Linked DNA regions of Homo sapiens. The protein of the gene in region 4 purifies or fractionates together with the protein of the main gene of each other region. This does not show direct contact. Each region holds a gene or a part of one and is shown on either strand. Other genes may lie near its edges. The genes, in order: COX18, SEMA3C, XRCC1 and VNN1.

Region 1 (4,619 bases), on a different chromosome or scaffold from region 4:
TAAGACCGTCTCCAAAAAAAAGAAAAGAAGGAAAAAAAAAAAAAGACTTCTCCATAATTATGACTCTAGAGCCAAACTACGTAGTTTTACATTTTTATGCCTCACTTTCTCTGCATTAAAAAAGGATAATATTTAGCTCACAGGGTTATTCCAAGAAGTAAATGAGTTGATTTATGTAAATTGCTTATAACAATGCCTATGGCCAGGCACAGTGGCTCACACCTGTAATTCCAGCACTTTGGGAGGCTGAGGCGGGCGGATCATTTGAGGTCAGGAGTTCCAGACCAGCCTGGCCAACATGGTAAAACCCAGTCTCTACTAAAAATACAAAAAATTAGCTGGGTGTGTTGGCGGGCGCCTGTAATCCCAGCTACTCGAGAGGCTGAGACAAGAGAATCACCTGAACCTGGGAGGTGGAGGTTGCAGTGAGTGGAGATCACACCACTGCACTCCAGCCTAGGAAACAGAGTGAGACTCTGTCTCAAGAAAAAAACAAACAAACAAACAAACAAAAAACACAATGCCTTGCACATAGTGTATGTTGAGTAAGAATAAGCTTTTAATAAGCTTTTATTTTTCTTTTAGAGGTGAGGTCTTTCTCTCTGTCGCCCAGGCTAGAGTACAGTGGTGGGATCACAACTCACTGCAGCCTCCATCTCTTGGGCTCAAACAATCCTCCTGACTCAGCTTCCAAGTAGCTGGAACTAGAGGCGCACGCCACCATGCCCCGCTATGAAAACACCTTTATTAGTCTTTAGATGACATAGAGGAAAAGACTAGGGGATTGACATTGATTCACTGTAACCTTGTGCTTATCACTTCCTTCTTTCTACCAAATATTCACTGAACACCAACCACAGGGGACTGTGCTAGTGCTCTTAGGGAAACATATTTGGACTACAGGTAGAGTCTTTCCTCAAGAAACTTTCACTTAAGACCTTATATTCTATCATCTCCATTTTCCTCATCTGAAAGAATAAGGGGTATATTAGATTTCACAAACAGGCATCAGAGGTCATGAGGTCTGGGAGATCTCTACTGAGGTAAATCATTTTTAAGATTTCTTCCAGTCCAGTCTGTTCTACTCAGAGTCTGAGAACAATTTATGAAATTATATGCACGCTTTCCCTAAACTGCTGAGTAAAGCAGCCTGTGATAAGGGTTAAGACATGACTGAGAGGGCTGGGCACAGTGGCTCATGCCTGTAATCCCAGCACTTTGGAAGGCCAAGGCGGGTGGATCACCTGAGGTCAGGAGTTCGAGACCAGCCTGGCAAACATGGTGAAACCCTGTCTCTACTAAAAATACAAAAATTAGCCGGGTGTGGTGGTGTGCGCCTATAATCCCAGCTACTCAGGAGGCAGAGGTTGCAGTGAGCCAAGACTGCGCCATTACACTCCGGCCTGGGCAACAAGAGCAAAACTCCATCTCAAAAAAAAAAGAAAAAAAAAGACATGACTGAGAGGTCACATTTTCTATGTGTATGTTTTTCCCATTTCATCTTATAAAGACATTCAATGACTTTTCTAAGGTCATAAAGCAAGAAAATAGCAGTCAGGGCCTGACTTGTGTTCTCCGCCTACAAATTCACATATTAAACACACACACGGAACATCACTCTATTTTAAGAATACAACCAGATTGACTGGGCATCTTTATTACTGTTTTTGCCAAAAGCAAGTCACAAAATTCTATGTATCAGAATCATATAATTTTGAAGCTGAAAGAGACTTGGAAGTATACTAGTGCTTTTACTTTAATTTCGAGAGTTCTGAGGCCCAGAGAGGTTAAGGGACAGGCCTAAGCCAATGCCTGACGTGGAACCAGGAACCAAGGGATCTCACTTCTAACTCAGAGCTATCTTCACCAACTCAAACAAAAACAGATTTGAAGTCAAAACAGCAGCAACAAAAATCCCCATAAATGGCAAACAAATTTCATTTAAAACTACTGACCTCCACTATTAACAAATTGATGACGCCAACAGAGATAGGCAGAATCCAAGTGGAGTCGGGTGCAGTGAGGTCAGGAAACCACAGAATTCCACCAGTAGCTAACTGTTCCTGAACAGAAAAACCTGCTAAAACAGTTTTATAAATAAAACAATAGAAGTCCTAAAAATAGCAGAGAAAAATATATAAGACATAAATAAGTAGTCTGACAATTCCAATAAGGTGTCCCTCACAGGAAAGATCTGCACTGGATTTATTCCAGTTTTTCACGCACAATATATATATTTTTTCTCAATACAAAATGTTCACAACACAACCAATCTGTTTACACTTAAGACTTTAAATTCTATACCCTTATAAGGAAGATAGTAAACATATCGTAATTATGAAAAGTATGCTTTTTTTTTTTTTTTTTTTTTTTTAGTACAAAGACAATGTTAGAGAACTTCTTTGGGAGAAGACATACAATAATTACCTTCTGAATGTGCTGCCCCCGTGCTTAAATTCCGGAGAGCAAAAGACATGAAGATCCACATTGGAAGCTGAATCCAAACCAACACAGTGGCTTTGAAAGGGTGGCAGTTATCTCGCACATATAGCTCTGAAATTAGCCTCCTCATATTCTTTAGATAAGTGAGCCTAGATTGAGGTTAGGGGGAAAAAAGGGGAAAGAGAAAATGTCATCTAAGAATCGTGCTTTATTTCCATAGCACAAATAGCGCCTGCTGTAGTTATTAGCTAAAGGATTTGTATAAGGGTTTCAGCTGTCACAGGCATGTTAAGGAGTTGCCTAAACAACAGGCAAATAAAGCCTTTTATCAAAACTTCTACAGTATGGTACACAAGTTACATAACAATCTGAAATTGTCAGACTACAGGCTTTGTCTCTGGTGGTCTTTGGCTGATTAGGCTTTAAAGGTAAATTTCACTACTGACATGGTATAACTACAATTAATATTGGAAATATGGAAGCTAAAAGCAAACTTTAATCAAATCTCTCCACTCCCGCCAAACTTAACCACTTCATCCCTGAATATACCTTTTGGAGCTATGTGGTTTTATACTGTGTATGCTCTTGGCCTGTCAAAATAGTCTCCATTTTTCAATCAACTATCTCACAAAGATATTTTTAATCTGTTTCTCTGTTAACCATATTAGTTACTACTGTTTTTTCCTGAAATTTTACTTTTTAGAATACAGTCTTCCTTCAGGTCCAAGAGAATAGGAGTTAAAAAACAAAAACTAAAGTATTCTTAGTTTAGGGGACAGTGTTCTATTTTATTCATCTTTAAATCTCCTGTATCATATATTTTGTACAGAGGAGGCATTCAATAGTTTTTCTGAATTTAGTCAAATTATAGTGTATAATAAGACAGTACACAAAGACATTCTAGGTCCTCCATAATTTCACATTTGCCTATTCTTCCAATTTTATCTCGTTACTCCTCTAGACACCTGCATATTCTGGTCTGAATGACTTTAGTTCATCCAACAAATCAGACTTCCGCATAGGCATGCCTTTGGAAGTACTGTATTATATCATCTGTGTGGAAAGCCCACTTTCCTGGCTGTCCATCTGACACACCGTCTTTTACCCTTCAAGACTCAATACTATTGAAAATGCAGGAAGCTGGCCAACACTGTGGCTTGCACTTGTAATTCCAGCTACTTGGGAGGCCAAAGTGGGAGGATTGCTTGAGGCCAGGAGTTTGAGATCAGCCTGCACAACACAGGGAGATTCTGTCTTGTTCAAAAAAACAAAAAAGAAAAGAAAAGAAAAGAAAATGCCAGAAGCCCTCAGATGTTTCCTCCTAGAAAGAAACATCTGTAAGGCTGTATCTGCACAACCATCCTGCCAGTACTGCTTAAGCAAGGTGCCACAAGTCTTATCTAGGCTGCGTTGATAACCCAGGCAAGCAGCTATTAATCTGGTTCTTTTGGCCTATGGCTGAAGCTTTCGACTTCTTTGATAAGTAAAATTTCAAACCTATAGGTCAACTTTTAATTTTTACCAAATAAAGACATTAAGCTATCACCACGATTTTTTAAAATGTCAGATCTTTTTAACACTAAATATAGGACACAATCTCGTATTAAAGATAGTTGGGAAATGTACAACTATATAAAAATATATGGTTAATAATATACACATAACACAGATTGATACCACAAAGGCCTTTTTCCATTGCTGTAAAAAGGAGAATAATTTTTCGCAGTCTAGTAAGGATTAGAGTTTGGGAAACTGATTGAGGAGTTGATTGAAGCAAGAGGGCTTGTAAGTTCCCAGTGAATGAATGCAGACATCCTTGGGCGCAATCAAGCACCCTTAGATTGGGACTTTCCAAGAACCCAGGCAGACAACTGCACAGAATAACCACAAAGGATAGACAGCATCTTAGCTATCAAAGTGTTTCTACTGTGGCACTTGTTTTCTACCTCCTCTTTCCTGTAGGCTATTACCTGCTGTATCTTTTCCAAAAGGTCAAGATTGTAAATAACCTGTGTCATTTGTTGACCAATATCACAAAAGAATGGCAAAGTGCCTTCATCCTGTGAACCCTGCCCTGACCTTCCTTGATGATCTAGCTCCTTGTACATCATCTTTATATAACAGTTAGTTCACTGACATCATTATTTGATTACAGGTCTGTCTTTTTCAATAGGCTG
Region 2 (4,619 bases), on a different chromosome or scaffold from region 4:
TGACTCCCTTTACATCCCCGTTATCTGTGCTAGGGATGGATTACTTCCTTTTTGCGGGTTGCTATTCAACAACTCATTTTGTTCTCACTATCACCAGCTGTCAGAAAAATGGGAGGGAGACAGGGCTCAAATTCACAAGTCACCAGAGTTTCTTGTCCTGGTCCTCAGCTTGCTTGCACTAAAAGCTGTCACTATATAAGTGTTACAATAATGTTTTAAGTAATAAAGTGTTCACCAAACTAATGATCCAATTATATAATTACAAATCTGTGGTTATTCATAAATTTAAAATAAGAAAACATATAAATAATGCATTTAAAATGATACCAGGAATACAACAGCTTTTTTCTGACTGAACAGTTTTTGTTATATGAATATACAAGAGAGTATACACTTAGGAAAGACTAAAACGGTATTCAAATATAATGTAATTTTACTCATAGACGATGTGAGTGTGTGTATGTGTGTGTGTGAGAGAGTTCTGCATTTATTTTTACTCAGATATATATCCTCTCTCCATAATTAATTCTATCTGTAGAAAGTCAAAATCTATAAGGAAATAAGTTTTTCCTAAAATAATTTAGAAGTTGCTTCTTCAGAGCTATTAATTCTACATAGAGTTAAGGTTTTCTTTCTGCTGGATCAACATTCTGTCTCCCTTCTCTGAGGAACAGAAATCTTCTGTAAAATTACATTGCTGTAACTCCCTGAGTTTATCTATTCCATATAGACTAGAGACTTTACATTAGCCATTATATTACAAATAAGGTTAAATATAAGAGCAATCTTGTATTCAAAATTCAAAGTCTGGTACCTGATCATTTTTATCAGAAAATAGTTGTACTAAGGTAGTAATTTAGAAATTAATTAGGTAGAATGTTTTATACTTTTATTATCAAGAATCTTAAATGCTAGCAAGCGTTAAAGTTGAGTAAGGCAAGAATATTTAGCATTTTCAGTGGCATCAGTTCAAACCAGAACATAAGATTACTTTAATGGATTTTTCACTCTAAGGCAATACATAAATGAGCAGAGTGGAATATTCTAGGGATTGACTAAGGGGAATATGGAATCCTGATGTACATAGCACATCAAACGAGCTCTTGATTACAAGAGCAGTAACTTGGGGAAGGAAAGACAAGACTAGTATGTTCATTAATTTGCATGAATTAGAGATAAATGAAAATATAAATTATTCTTATTTATGTATTGCCTCAATCTTCGCAAAGAGAATTGAGAGGCACTTAAAATATGGTGTTGAACAGATTTAAAGCCTGATATATAATGATCCTCAAATTACTGCTGAAAATCAGCAGTTAATTAAAAATGTAAGGTATGTTAAAGCTACAGTGTTGTACATACTTGGAGAAGAAATATCATGAAGCAAGTTGTTAATACTCATATTAATAGCCTTGCATTTCTGCAGATTTTGTAACATACATTTGCAGGGTATCTCTGATTCTATACAAGCACTGCTCATAATTAATTTTTCTCTTCTTATACCATTTTGTCTTCTAGTCTTGTCAATGCCACCATTAAGCTGTAGAACCTTAACCAAGAGCTTTAGCCTCCATGCCAATTTACTTCATAGGCATTCTATAATAAATTAAATAATAAGGGAATTATTTGAAAAGTAAAAAGCATTTTACAGAAGTAACATATCCCTATTGAGAGCTTAAAGACAGCTCATTCTCATTGGATAAGGAGGATGGGTTGAAATGATTGTTTCTGAAAAGCCTGCAATTTAAAACGTGGAACATACTTGCCATCTTTTACAGCTCAGCAAATTGTTTCATGGCTAGTGCTACCCTAAAATAGCACATGGCTCAGCACTTAGTTCTACCTTCCATGTGCCCTTCTTGCTAACTCATACTCTGAGCTACAGAACATCTTACCTTTCTGTTCCTTGCCTTTAAATGTGTTTTCCTTAACAACAGAGGTCTTCAGTAATATATAAATGAAAATGCAGAAGGCAAAAAAGTGCTGGAATCTGCCCAAAGCTCACAGCTCTATTTCCCAATGCTCGTTCTTTTTTTTTTTTTTTTTAACAGTAATGGAACTAAAACCAAAGTGATAGTTCTTTATTATAGCAAAGTGATAGTTTTTTTATTTAAAATAAGTTATTTTTTACAACCTCCTTATATAAAAGATGTTTATGAAAGAAAAAATTGAGTGTGTCTCGGTGCCATTTTTTTAATGCAATGAATGATATCCATGAAAAAGAACATCTGAATCTTTTGTTTTAAAAGACAGTGCAAGGTATAGTGAATTTATGGAGATACATCCTGATAAATTTGCATAATGAAATGAGGAGAGTGTATAATAATTTTTTTCTACTGTTATCCATCTAAGCACTGACTTGCTCGCATAGGCACAAAGGGAGATCTCAGTTACAGCAACAAAATAAACATGTTCCAGAGAGGTAATTCCCCTCATCTTCACCTTGATGAATCATAAATTAAAGGGGGAATTTGGGATGATATAGGGAATGAATTTTATTTCATTTTCAGGCAGGTTTGATGTTCTAAGAGCAATGTAAAATTCTAGCATGACATAGTTAACATGATATGTTTACAGAATATCTTACTGAGAAAAATTCTTTTCCTTTTTCCTTTCATTGTGATCTTTGTGGATCTTAAAACTAATTCTCATGGCAGCTACAGAAATGGCTGCCACAAAGTCAGTATTAATGTTAGTGTTTAATTGCCAAAACTATTTTAGAAACAAAGAAGACAAAAAGTAGTATACACCTAGGAAGAATGCGAAAATGTATAACTTTGGTTCTAGATATATCTTCTGAATCAAAATTGCAAATAAAGGCTAAGTAACATCGTTTTATCAATATATGTGAACAACATATCAACATATATGATCAACATGTGAACAAATTTAAAATAAGCTATCTAGGATCACTTGCACCATCTTCATTTGATAAAGAGTTCAATTTAGTAAACATGTTTAGGCATGTCTATTAATTCATAGAATAGGACCTTTTTTTTTTTTTTTGAAAGAGAGTCTCACTCTCTTGCTCAGGCTGGAGTACAATGGCTCAGGCTGGAGTACAATGGCACGACCTCGACTCACTGCAAGCTCTGCCTCCCGAGTTTATGCCATTCTCCTGCCTCAGCCTCCCGAGTAGCTAGGACTACAGGTGGCCACCACCATGCCTGGCTAATTTTTTGTATTTTTAGTAGAGACGGGGTATCACCACGATAGCCAGCATGATCTTGATCTCCTGACCTCGTGATCCACCCGCCTTGGCCTCCCAAAGTGCTAGGATTACAGGCGTGAGCCCCCGTGCTCGACCACATTTTTTTTTAATGGAACCGCTGTGTTCGTATGACCGATTAACAAAACACTCAAGCTCACTCTTCTAACTTCAGAACACTAAAGCATTCCTTCTTTGCTCCCAATTGTAGGAACCTTGTAACTCTGAATGGCTTAACACAGAATATCATTTATTGGCAACAGAATCAAGCTTATTATAATCTGATGAAACTCACCTGGAACAGTAATTACTTTTTTAAACAGGAAAATATAGGCTTACACATTTTTCTAAAATTTTTTCTCTAGGAGAAATCCACAGCATATCAATGTAACACCTTTTATCCTAAAATTTTCAAGAGATGTTCTTTGCAATACCTGAAATAAAATTTCCTCCCTCCAATTCAAGTCTACTAGAAATATTATTTTATTTTGATTACCAGAGCCCTATATCAATACATATTACAGGGGAAAATAGACATACGAGGCTACATTTCTTAGCAATTCTTCTCATCTTCCATTGCAATTGTATTTTATAACAGTTTTTACCTTGCTGCTTTACAAATTTAGTGTTACTCTATTCTAGACTCATGTTTCAGGTAATGTCCAACTCACAAGTGAATTCATCAATCCTTTGCTGAGTTCAATTAAACTCTCACAAGGGGGAGAGTAGAAGGAACTTTTTATTCACAGAGCACCCCTTGAGTTTGGGTTTACTAAAACACTCATGTGTGCTTCAAGATATTTCAGTGACATTTAATTGAAACCATCATAAGGAGACTTAAAAGAAAATGCCATAACACACACCTGAGAACTAAATACTTCTCAGTAACACAAACCTGAGAAGATTCAATACACCCAGAGTAAGCATCTTCCAAGATTAACGGAGAAATCAAGAACAACTGCTTTTATTTTCATTTCTTGGGCAACCACAACAAAAACTATTTCAACAAACGTGCCTTGTAATGCTAATGCTACCAGAGCTCATAAAGAGGCAATTTATTATTTTCAGTTTATTGTCCAATAACAATTCATCAGCTTTGGGGCTTAGTTCATTAGTTCACAGGGATTCTTTTATTTGTTGAGGGTGATTTTAAAAGATGTTTTATAAAATTCCATAGTCTTTCATTTACATACTATCAAAGACCTGGAGACTTTGGCAGCTTTATTACTAAAAATTCAGCACACACAAAAGGGAAAATGAATCACAAAGTAAATAAATAAAACAGGGCCAGGCGCAGTGGCTCACGCCTGTAATGTCAACAATTTGGGAGGCTGAGACAGGCGGATCACCTGAAGTCAGGAGTTCGAGACCAGCCGGGCCAACGTGGTGAAACCCTGTCTCTACTAAAAGT
Region 3 (4,619 bases), on a different chromosome or scaffold from region 4:
GGCCCTTCTCCATCCTCCTGATGGTCTTCTTTCCCACACCCCCACCCCTCCCAGCAGGTCCCTGAGCGTTCCCTTGGATCCATCACCCCTTCCCCACCCCAGTCCCTGGAGACTCACCCATTGAAGGCTGTGACGTATCGGATGAGTTTCCGCCGCTCGTCCCCAGGGAACTCCCCGTAAAGAAAGAAGTGCTTGCCCTGGAAGAAATCTGCAGGAGAGAAGGGGGCTAAGGTAAGCATGAGGCCCCAGGAGTTCCCAGGCACCAAACAGGAGTGACGAGGCTGACCCAGCAGCTGAGGAGAGGGCTGTCCACATGTGGGCAGGGATTGATGGCAGGCAGTGGACCCTGCCCAGCGGCCCATCAGAGCCTCCTGGGGAGGTAGGTTGGTTGGTTGGTTGGTTTGCTTTAATGGTAGAAGATACAATGCCTATTATTGTGATTTGTTTCTGACCGACAGGCTGGAGCCACTTACCTCTCTCTCTCTCTTTTTTTTTTTTAAGACAAGGACTCACTCTGTCGCCCAGGCTGGAGTGCAGTGGCGTGATCTTGCCTCACTGCAACCTCTGCCTCCTGGGCTCAAGTGATTCTCCCATCTCAGCCTCCCCAGTAGCTGGGACTACAGGTGCATGCCACCAAGCCAGACTAATTTTTAAACTTTTTGTAGAGAGACGGGGTATTGACATGTTGCTCAGGCTGGTCTCAAACTCTTGGGCTCAAGCAATCCTCCCACCTCAGCCTCCTGAGTAGCCAGGACTACTGAGTAGCACACCACCACGCTCGGCTAATTTTTAAAATGTTTTGTAAAGGCGGGGGTCGGGGGGGGTCTCACTATGTTGCCCAGGCTGGTCTTGAACTCTTGGACTCAAGCAGTCCTCCCACCTCGGCCTCTCAAAGTACGGGGTGAGCCACCACGCCTGGCCTGCCTGGAGCCACTTAATGAGCTTAGTCCAGGCTGAAAACGTCAGTATCTGCCACTTCTTCACCTTTGCTCTCCTTTCCAACCAGTGCCTTTCTTGTTCTGACCTTTGGGGTGGCTCCTTCTTTCCATTTTAAGGTGACTCTCTAGGCCATCAATTTGCTGATGCCACTTTAGGGGCTTGGGAGAATCAAAGCATCTTCCTGCCCATCACCCACGAGGAACTGGGTGGAAACGGCTCTTCTGGAAGCCCCAGAACCACACCTCTGCACAGCCCGTGACTGTCTTTCCTCTGCTCCCTTCATTCTCGAAGAAGCTCTGCCTCCCTGCCCCTCATCCCACAACTCCCTGCAGAGTTTCCCCATTTCCTTTTGTTCTTATTCTTTTACACTGGAAATGCAAACACACAATGTGTGCAGACAGCATCCACGTCCAGAGTGATGGCTGATGTTAAAGCAGACACTGGTGTGCACCCACCCAGGGCCTGACAGAGAGCAGTGCCCCTGTCACCTGGTGTGCCCGGCTTCACCCCAGACCAACAGAACGGCACCTGAGCAAGTGAAGCACTAGCATGAGGGTGGGGCCCTCACCCCTGACGTGAAAAAAAGGAGGTCACACCTGGCACATGGCTGCGAGGGGAGTGGTCAGAACAAGAAATCTGGAGGGGAGAAAAAGGCAAGTCACAGAGAGGATGCTGAAAGGAAAGGAACAAGCCTGGCAGAACCTGAAGGTGCTGAGGCAGGGAGTGGGTTGAGGAAGGAGAGGGGAGGCAAGACACGGGGGCAGCAGTGACCCCAGGGCTGGCCAGGGCAAGTCCCAGCTGAGAACTGAGAAGAGAAAATGCCACTTCAGGAGGGATGGGGGGATTTCCCACCTGGGAGCTCAGGGACTGGCAGATCAGGAGGCTCCTGGTGTTCCTCACTGTCCGTGTTCTCATCCGTGGAGCCTGCATACGGGTCTTCCCCATTCTCCTCCTGGCCAGGGGGCAGTCTGTGTTCCTTCTGCTCTGCCACCCTGGGGGTGCCAAGAGGAGTAGAGAGTGAGCATGCAGAGCAGCCTCCCCTACACCCAAGGCCAGGGACACCCCAACCCCCAGCCCCAGCCCTACCTCCTCAGCTCATCCTCTGTGTCCCCAGAATCTTCCGCCCCATTGTCCTGTCCTTCTGCAAGTAGAAGCTCAGTCAATGCAAGGCTGCCTTGTCTCCTGGGAAGACTGGCAGCTCTCCCAGTATGGCACAGACCCAGGCATCTCATGCCCCCAGCCTCAACTGCCCTCCAGATCCAGTCGTCTGGGCCCCCAGCCCCTCCTCCCTCTGATCCAGGAGTCCAGGCCCCAGCCCCTCCTCCCTCAGACCCAGGAGTCCAGGACTCAGCCCTTCCTCCCTCAGACACAGGAGTCCAGCCCCCAGCCCCTCCTCCCTCAGACCCAGAAGCCCAGGCCCCCAGCCCCTCCTCCCTCAGACCCAGGAGTCCAGGCCCCCAGCCCCTCATCCCTCAGACCCAGGAGTCCAGGTCCCCAGGCTCTCTTCCCTCAGACTCAGGAGTCCAGGCCCCAGCCCCTCCTCCCTCAGACTCAGGAGCCCAGGCCGCAGGCCCTCCTCCCTCAGACTCAGGAGCCCAGGCCCCAGCCCCTCCTCCCTCAGAGTCTGACCTGACTGTACCCCCTCAATGTCTATATCTTCCTGGAGCACTGGTGAGGCTGCTTTGGTCTCTTCAGGGGTTGGGGGCTTCTGGGGTGAGCTGGGTCCAGCTGCCTGAGTGGGCTTGGTTTTGGTCTGGGGTTGCTAAGGAGGGAGAGTGGGTGGGTGAGGAGGGCAGGAACAGTGTGGGTGTGTTGGGGGGGTACCTGCAAGAGGCAAGAGTGGGAAGTTTGGGGTGCCACAGCGGACTCATGTCATCCTCCCACTACACCCTCCCCCACTGGACAGGGGGCATCAGACCTTCTGAGGAAGCTTGGGGGCTTCATCTCCGCTGCCACCGCTGTGAGAGGCCTCATCCTCCTCACTGCTGGAACCTGGCCCTGCCATGAGGTACCTAGGGGACAAATCGGGCCTCAGACAAACAGGCCCAAGGGAAGTGGGGAGGGCGTTCAGGAGGCAACAGCCATTGGCATTTACTAAAATACTCACTCTAGTGGGCCTCATGGTCTTGTTCCCAGCCCATTCTCTCCCAGCTCAGGAAGGCCCCAGTGAACCCAGTCAGTCTGGCCACCTGCCCTGCAGACCTGGGTACCCCCTTTCTTCCCCTCCCTCTTTTTTTTTTTGAGACAGAGTCCATTCCATCGCCAGGCTGGAGTGCAGTGGCCTCATCTCGGCTCACTGCAATCTCTGCCTCCAGGTTCGAGCGACTCCCCTGCCTCAGCCTCCCTAGTAGCTGGGATTACAGGTGCACACCACCATGCCCCGCCAACTTTTTGTATTTTAGTAGAGACACGGTTTCACCATGTTGGCCAGGATGGTCTCGATCTCCTGACCTCATGCTCTGCCCCCGTCAGCCTCTGAAAGTGCTGGAATTACAGGCGTTAGCCACCACTCCTGGCCGCTTTTTTTTTTTTTTAGACAAGATCTCACTCTGTCACCCAGGATAGAGTGCAGTGGCGTGATCTTGGCTCACTGCAACCTCCACCTCCCAGGGTTCGAGCGAGTCTCCTGCCTCAGCCTCCCCAGTAACTGCGATTACAGGCATGTGCCACCACGCCTGGCTAATTTTGTGTTTTTTGTGTTGTTTTGTTTTTTAAGTACATACGAGGTTTCATCACGTTGGCCAGGATGGTCTCGAACTCCTGACCTCGAGTGATCCACCCACCTCAGCCTCCCAAAGTGCTGGGATTACAGGCATGAACCACAGTACCCAGAATTCCCCTCCCTCTTGGGGAAGAAATGTCTCAATTCAGAAAGGAATGAAAAATCAGAACTTTCTCCTTTAAGAATCAAAGGCAGTTTCTCATTAGGAAAATACCCACCATTTAAGGGGAAAATCTCAAAGCAAACACATTTTAAAGACTACAACACTATAATCATGGTTCCTTAAGCCACTAACATTCCAGGAAAAGGATTTTCCTAGCTCTAACAACAGTAGCAGGTTCCCGTCCGGGAGGGAGGTGGGGGGCCAGCCGCCCCGTCGGGGGGGAGGTGGGGGGCCAGCCGCCCCATCCGGGAGGGAGGTGGGGGGGTCAGCCCCCGCCCGGCCAGCCGCCCCTCCAGGAGGGAGGTGGGGGGCGCCTCCGCCCGGCCGCCGCCCCGTCCGGGAGGTGGGGGGCGCCTCTGCCCGGCCGCCCCTTCTGGGAAGTGAGGAGCCCCTCTGCCTGGCCACCACCCCGTCTGGGAGGTGTACCCAACAGCTCATTGAGAACGGGCCATGATGACGATGGCGGTTTTGTGGAATAGAAAAGGGGGAAAGGTGGGGAAAAGATAGAGAAATCAGATTGTTGCTGTGTCTGTGTAGAAAGAAGTAGACATGGGAGACTTCATTTTGTTCTGTACTAAGAAAAATTCTTCTGCCTTGGGATGCTGTTAATCTATGACCTTACCCTCAACCCTGTGCTCTCTGAAACATGTGTTGTGTCCACTCAGGGTTAAATGGATTAAGGGCGGTGCAAGATGTGCTTTGTTAAACAGATGCTTGAAGGCAGCATGCTCATTAAGAGTCATCACCACTCCCTAATCTCAAGTACCCAGGGACACAAACACTGCGGAAGGCCGC
Region 4 (4,619 bases):
CAATATTTCTAATTCTAGTATCTCCCTTAAGCATCAGACCAAAGTATTCAACAGACAACTGGCTGGGTCCAGCTGAATGTCTCATAACTACTTCAAAACCAGCACATCTATAACTGAACTCAGCCTCTACCCACTGTCAGTGAGTCTGCTCCTCTCTTGCCTCCTGATCTGTCAGATGCATCTCACCCACCCAGCCATTCTTGCCAGAAATCTGCCACATTCTGGACTCTCCATTCCGTTTTCCTGTTCCACATCAAATTGGCCACTGAGTTCCATTTTCTAAATATGTCTAGACTCCATGCCCTGCTTTTATTCCAACAAACACAGTCTTGGTCCAGACCCTTAATAAGACTATTTTAATAATCTAGTCTTTTGGGTCTTTGCTCCATCATCTACAGAGTAGTAAAAATGATATATTCAAAGGTAGATCTGACCACATCATTCCTTCACTGGACCACTTCCACCAGCTGACCATCACCCACAGAATAAAGGCTGAATCTTAAGTGTGCTAGGTAAGATCCTGCAGGACAGGATGTTGCTTCCAGGCTTATTTCCCACCAAACCCAGCTTCGCAAGCCATGCCTCAGTTGCCTTAGTAGCACTGACCTGTTGCTGTTCCCTGCAGACCCTGCTCCTGCCTGCATCCACACCCTTGTTCATGCTCTTCACACCACAAAGAATCCCCTCCTACTCTTTTTCACCTGGATAATAGCATCAGCTCCAGAAACTTCCCTGCATTCCCAAATTAATCTAAGTAGAGCTCTTTAGTACTCCTCCAGCAAAATGTGCATTCTACGGACAATCACATGCCAACCTATGCTGAAATTATCTGTTCAAATGTCTTTCTCCATTACTAAAGACTGAATTCTTCAAGAGGAGGATCTATGCTTATTTATCTTCATATCATTAACACTAAATAAATACCTGGCATATAGTAGGCCTTCATTTGCTAAAACGAAAAAGTATTGTTAGGGTAGTTATCATAGAGCAAACAAAATACTGTGCAGTTGGCATAATTTCAGCACTCAAGGGGTTCTCAGTCTCAAATAAGTAAGTGAATACTATGACATAATATGTCTTTGATAAAGCTAAGCATAGGGTGTCCTGGGAGCACATAAAGGATGTACTTAACTCATCTGGAGAGGTAGGAGTAGCTCTGTGGGAAATATCCAGGAACCCCTCTTGGTGACGATAACACCAGAAAAGTGCTATGAAAGATTAGTAGGTGGGGCTCGCCACGGATAAAGGACCAAACAATCTGTGCAAACACCTTGAGGTTCTGCATATGCTAGCAAATAGGAGATGGGAAAATATTTCAATATTGCAGAAGCCCAGGATATTTGTAAGTAGAAGTGAGATTAGAGGATAGAGAATAGGAAGGGACCACACATCTAGACTTTGTGTGTCTTTCATGTTAAGAAATTTGATTTGTCAATTAGAAGTCAGTGAAGAATTTTAAGCCAGACAGTATTATAATCAAAAACAGCTTTTTGTGATTTCTGTAACTACAATATGGAGAACTGACTGGATGGAGCTGAGATTGTCAGACTGTCAATAGGAAGCCCTGTTAAGTGAGATAAGATGGGGGCCAGACCAAGGAAGAGAAGAGAAGAATGAGAGGACCATGGAGGCCACTTGCGAGCAATGAGAGATTGGATCTTTGCAGCAATAAACCATTCCATTGAACTATCTTGGTGGTCAACCCCATTCATATCCAGGATATACTTAGTGTCAAACTCTTTATAAAGCAAGATAGGCATTTGTGAACATATAAGGAAAATGGCTTAATTTGTTCAGGCAGGAAATAAAATGGGTTTTCAATGAACTCCTGTTATAATGATCTGTAATTTGAATATTTATTTTTAATACTGCTACTGCAAGTAAATGTCCTGCCTTTTCCCAATCAGCTTAAAATTGAACTGACATCTAAGGTTTCAAGGTTTAGCAAATAGGCAGGGCACGGTGGCTCATGCCTATAATCTCAACACTTTGGGAGGCTGAGGTGGGCGGATCACCTGAGCTCGGGGAGTTTGAGACCACCCTGGCCAATATGGTGAAACTCTGTCTCTACTAAAATACAACAACAACAAAAAAATTAGCCAGGCATGGTGGCACTCGCCTGTAGTCCCAGCTACTTGGGAGGCTGAGGCGTGAGAATTGCTTGGCCGAGGAGGCAGAGCTTGCAGTGAGCTGATGCACCACTGCACTCCAGCTTGGGCTACAGAGTGAGACTCTGTCTCAAAAAAAAAAAAAAAAGATTTAGCAAATAAATTTAGCCTGTATTTGTAGGCTTCCCAGCTAAAGTTGAATTTCAAATAAACAACAAAATTTTTAGCATACATAAATCCCCAAAAGTGTGATATGCTTATACTAAAAAATCATTCATTATTTATCTAAACTGTATATTTAACTGAGTGTCTTTATTTTATCCAGTAACTCTTCTGACATCAAAATATTACCTGTAGATAATAGCGCCCTTCCACAGTGTGCAGTCCGTCAAATGCCCCTAGAGCGTACACTTCATTTGGTATGTTCTCAGACATTTTGTAGCTTAAATGACAGCAGAGATCTTTCTGACAAACTGTATAATTTCCTGCAACTCCTGTGAGCTTCACAAAAGTGAATTCATCGAAAAAGACAGTGCCTTTAAATTCCTTGTTTCCTGATGAGAGCGCTTCTATACTGCTGGCATAGGAAGTCCAGTTCACCACTGCAGAATGGGATGGGTGGGAATCCAGTTGCGAGAGGAGGAGTTTTCCCTCTTCTGTCTTCATATCATAATGAAATGCTCTTGAAGAATTGGGTGCATAGATGCCACTTCCTGGAAGTAATAAGTTGAAAACATCATTTGAAATTGGAAAGTAAAAAGGGATTTCATAATTGTTATTACTATTTTAACCTCATATTCACATTTTACTCTCTCTAAGTTATATGTTTTATTAATTTCAGTAAAACATGCTGATAAAGACAGAGAAGTGAGAGGAAATCAATTAAAGTATGAAACCAAGAAGCCAAGAAGGGAGAGTTGTATGTAAGAAGTCATATATTTTGAAAAAAAAATCAAGTTAAATAAAACCAAATAAATCTACAAAACAATTTAGACTGAGATTGATTCTATAGCATATTAACAGCTAGATGTTCAAAAATTAAGAGCTGGAAAACATTGTATTAAGGAGTATGCGTTAGCTAGAAAAACATGTTTTTTTTTTCTTTTCTTTTCTGATTACATCAGCCTGCATATCTTTAAGATCACACATTACCTGTCATTTTCTTTGAGGGGTAATGTATGTTGGATGCAAGGAAATTGACCCTCATGCCCATAGCCCAAGCTGAGTGGAATTCAACAGCTGACAAATGTGGCAAAACATTCATCCAAGCTGTTGGGAATACTATGGTGTCCACGTGGAAATCTTTCACCAAGGTAACAGCAGGATCATGGAAGAGTATATCAAAGCATGTGAAAATGCCAAAACTTCCAAAGGTGGTATTGAAAGTCACAATCTCAGGCTCCTTGGGTACATTGAATTGATTTTCACCCATGAAAAGGTTTTGCTGCAATAAACAGAAGATAAAGAGAAAAAAATTATTTTAGGAAGTTGATCTGGACATCACAGTGTGGGAAAAAGTACAAGCTCACATCTTAGTGCCAATTTCATCTATGATCAGTGTTTTCATGGGAAATGAGTTTGCTTTAGAGAATCAGAGGCCATTCTAGCTAAACTGGGCCTTTAGTTCAGTCTCCACATTACAAATATGTACATGGGTATCTTTATCTATAAAGACCCACTGGAATCTTATAAGACATAAAATAGATTACTTCTGTTTGCCAAGTAGACTTAACTGTTTTCCTTGGCAAGGAACTTTGTTTGTTCCATTCTCCTCAAGACAGAGTCTATGTGGTAAGCAGTTTTTCATTCTAGCCTTGACCCATTGCCAGGGTATGCCTTTAAAAGGACAAAGTCCAAAAGGCAACATTAGGCAACATAATGCATGCGGCACTTTCTGACTGCTACACACTCCTGAAAACACACTCCTGTGTTCTTATATGTACACGGAACCCCTTAAGCCTCTTTATAGGAGCTTTCCACGCTTTATCATTACTTTCTATGCTTTGCCCCTACTCGATTTCTAAAGTGTGCTTATCATTATCAATAACATATTTTTCTCCTTGCCCACTTTATTTCATTAGGCATTAACTAATTGGATTATTTGCAAATTAATTTTACCTTATGGTAGCGTGCCACCAGTTTTCCTTGAGAATCAAATACCACATCAGTGTTGTATTGGTAACGGCCATCAGGGGGACACTGAGGATCACTGGTATCGCATGGCTTCTTGTCCCCAATATTTGCCACAACATAGATAGAGTTGTTCTTGGCCAGGCAGCTGAGTCTTTCTTGTACTGGGGTCTGGCCAAATCTGATACATGTTTATTGGAGGAAAAAAATCTTTGTAAATCAATCTTAACTCTCAACAAAATCCTGAATGATAGTTGCCTAAACCTATTATTTGATATATGCAAAAGTAAATTCTAAATAACAATAATTAGAAGAGAAGTATTAAGACAAGAAAGGAGTTCAGAGGAAGCCCATGCTTGAGTAAAATTGGTTGTAGGAACC

The links.
Region 1: the proteins of VNN1 (region 4) and COX18 purify together in Homo sapiens (affinity purification with mass spectrometry; one large-scale study listed by BioGRID and IntAct). This does not show direct contact.
Region 2: the proteins of VNN1 (region 4) and SEMA3C purify together in Homo sapiens (affinity purification with mass spectrometry; one large-scale study listed by BioGRID and IntAct). This does not show direct contact.
Region 3: the proteins of VNN1 (region 4) and XRCC1 purify together in Homo sapiens (affinity purification with mass spectrometry; one large-scale study listed by BioGRID and IntAct). This does not show direct contact.

The regions. Positions count from the first base shown.
Region 1 is NC_000004.12:73,062,823-73,067,441, forward strand, and holds part of COX18 (cytochrome c oxidase assembly protein COX18, mitochondrial), read right to left. Parts: intron 2,592-4,619; coding exon 2,428-2,591; intron 2,081-2,427; coding exon 1,956-2,080; intron 1-1,955. UniProt on the Homo sapiens protein: Mitochondrial membrane insertase required for the translocation of the C-terminus of cytochrome c oxidase subunit II (MT-CO2/COX2) across the mitochondrial inner membrane.
Region 2 is NC_000007.14:80,908,626-80,913,244, forward strand, and holds part of SEMA3C (semaphorin-3C isoform 2 precursor), read right to left. Parts: intron 1-4,619. UniProt on the Homo sapiens protein: Binds to plexin family members and plays an important role in the regulation of developmental processes. Required for normal cardiovascular development during embryogenesis.
Region 3 is NC_000019.10:43,544,027-43,548,645, forward strand, and holds part of XRCC1 (DNA repair protein XRCC1), read right to left. Parts: intron 2,952-4,619; coding exon 2,858-2,951; intron 2,702-2,857; coding exon 2,569-2,701; intron 2,081-2,568; coding exon 2,026-2,080; intron 1,932-2,025; coding exon 1,792-1,931; intron 209-1,791; coding exon 118-208; intron 1-117. UniProt on the Homo sapiens protein: Scaffold protein involved in DNA single-strand break repair by mediating the assembly of DNA break repair protein complexes. Negatively regulates ADP-ribosyltransferase activity of PARP1 during base-excision repair in order to prevent excessive PARP1 activity.
Region 4 is NC_000006.12:132,689,764-132,694,382, forward strand, and holds part of VNN1 (pantetheinase precursor), read right to left. Parts: intron 4,420-4,619; coding exon 4,227-4,419; intron 3,553-4,226; coding exon 3,261-3,552; intron 2,822-3,260; coding exon 2,460-2,821; intron 1-2,459. UniProt on the Homo sapiens protein: Amidohydrolase that hydrolyzes specifically one of the carboamide linkages in D-pantetheine thus recycling pantothenic acid (vitamin B5) and releasing cysteamine.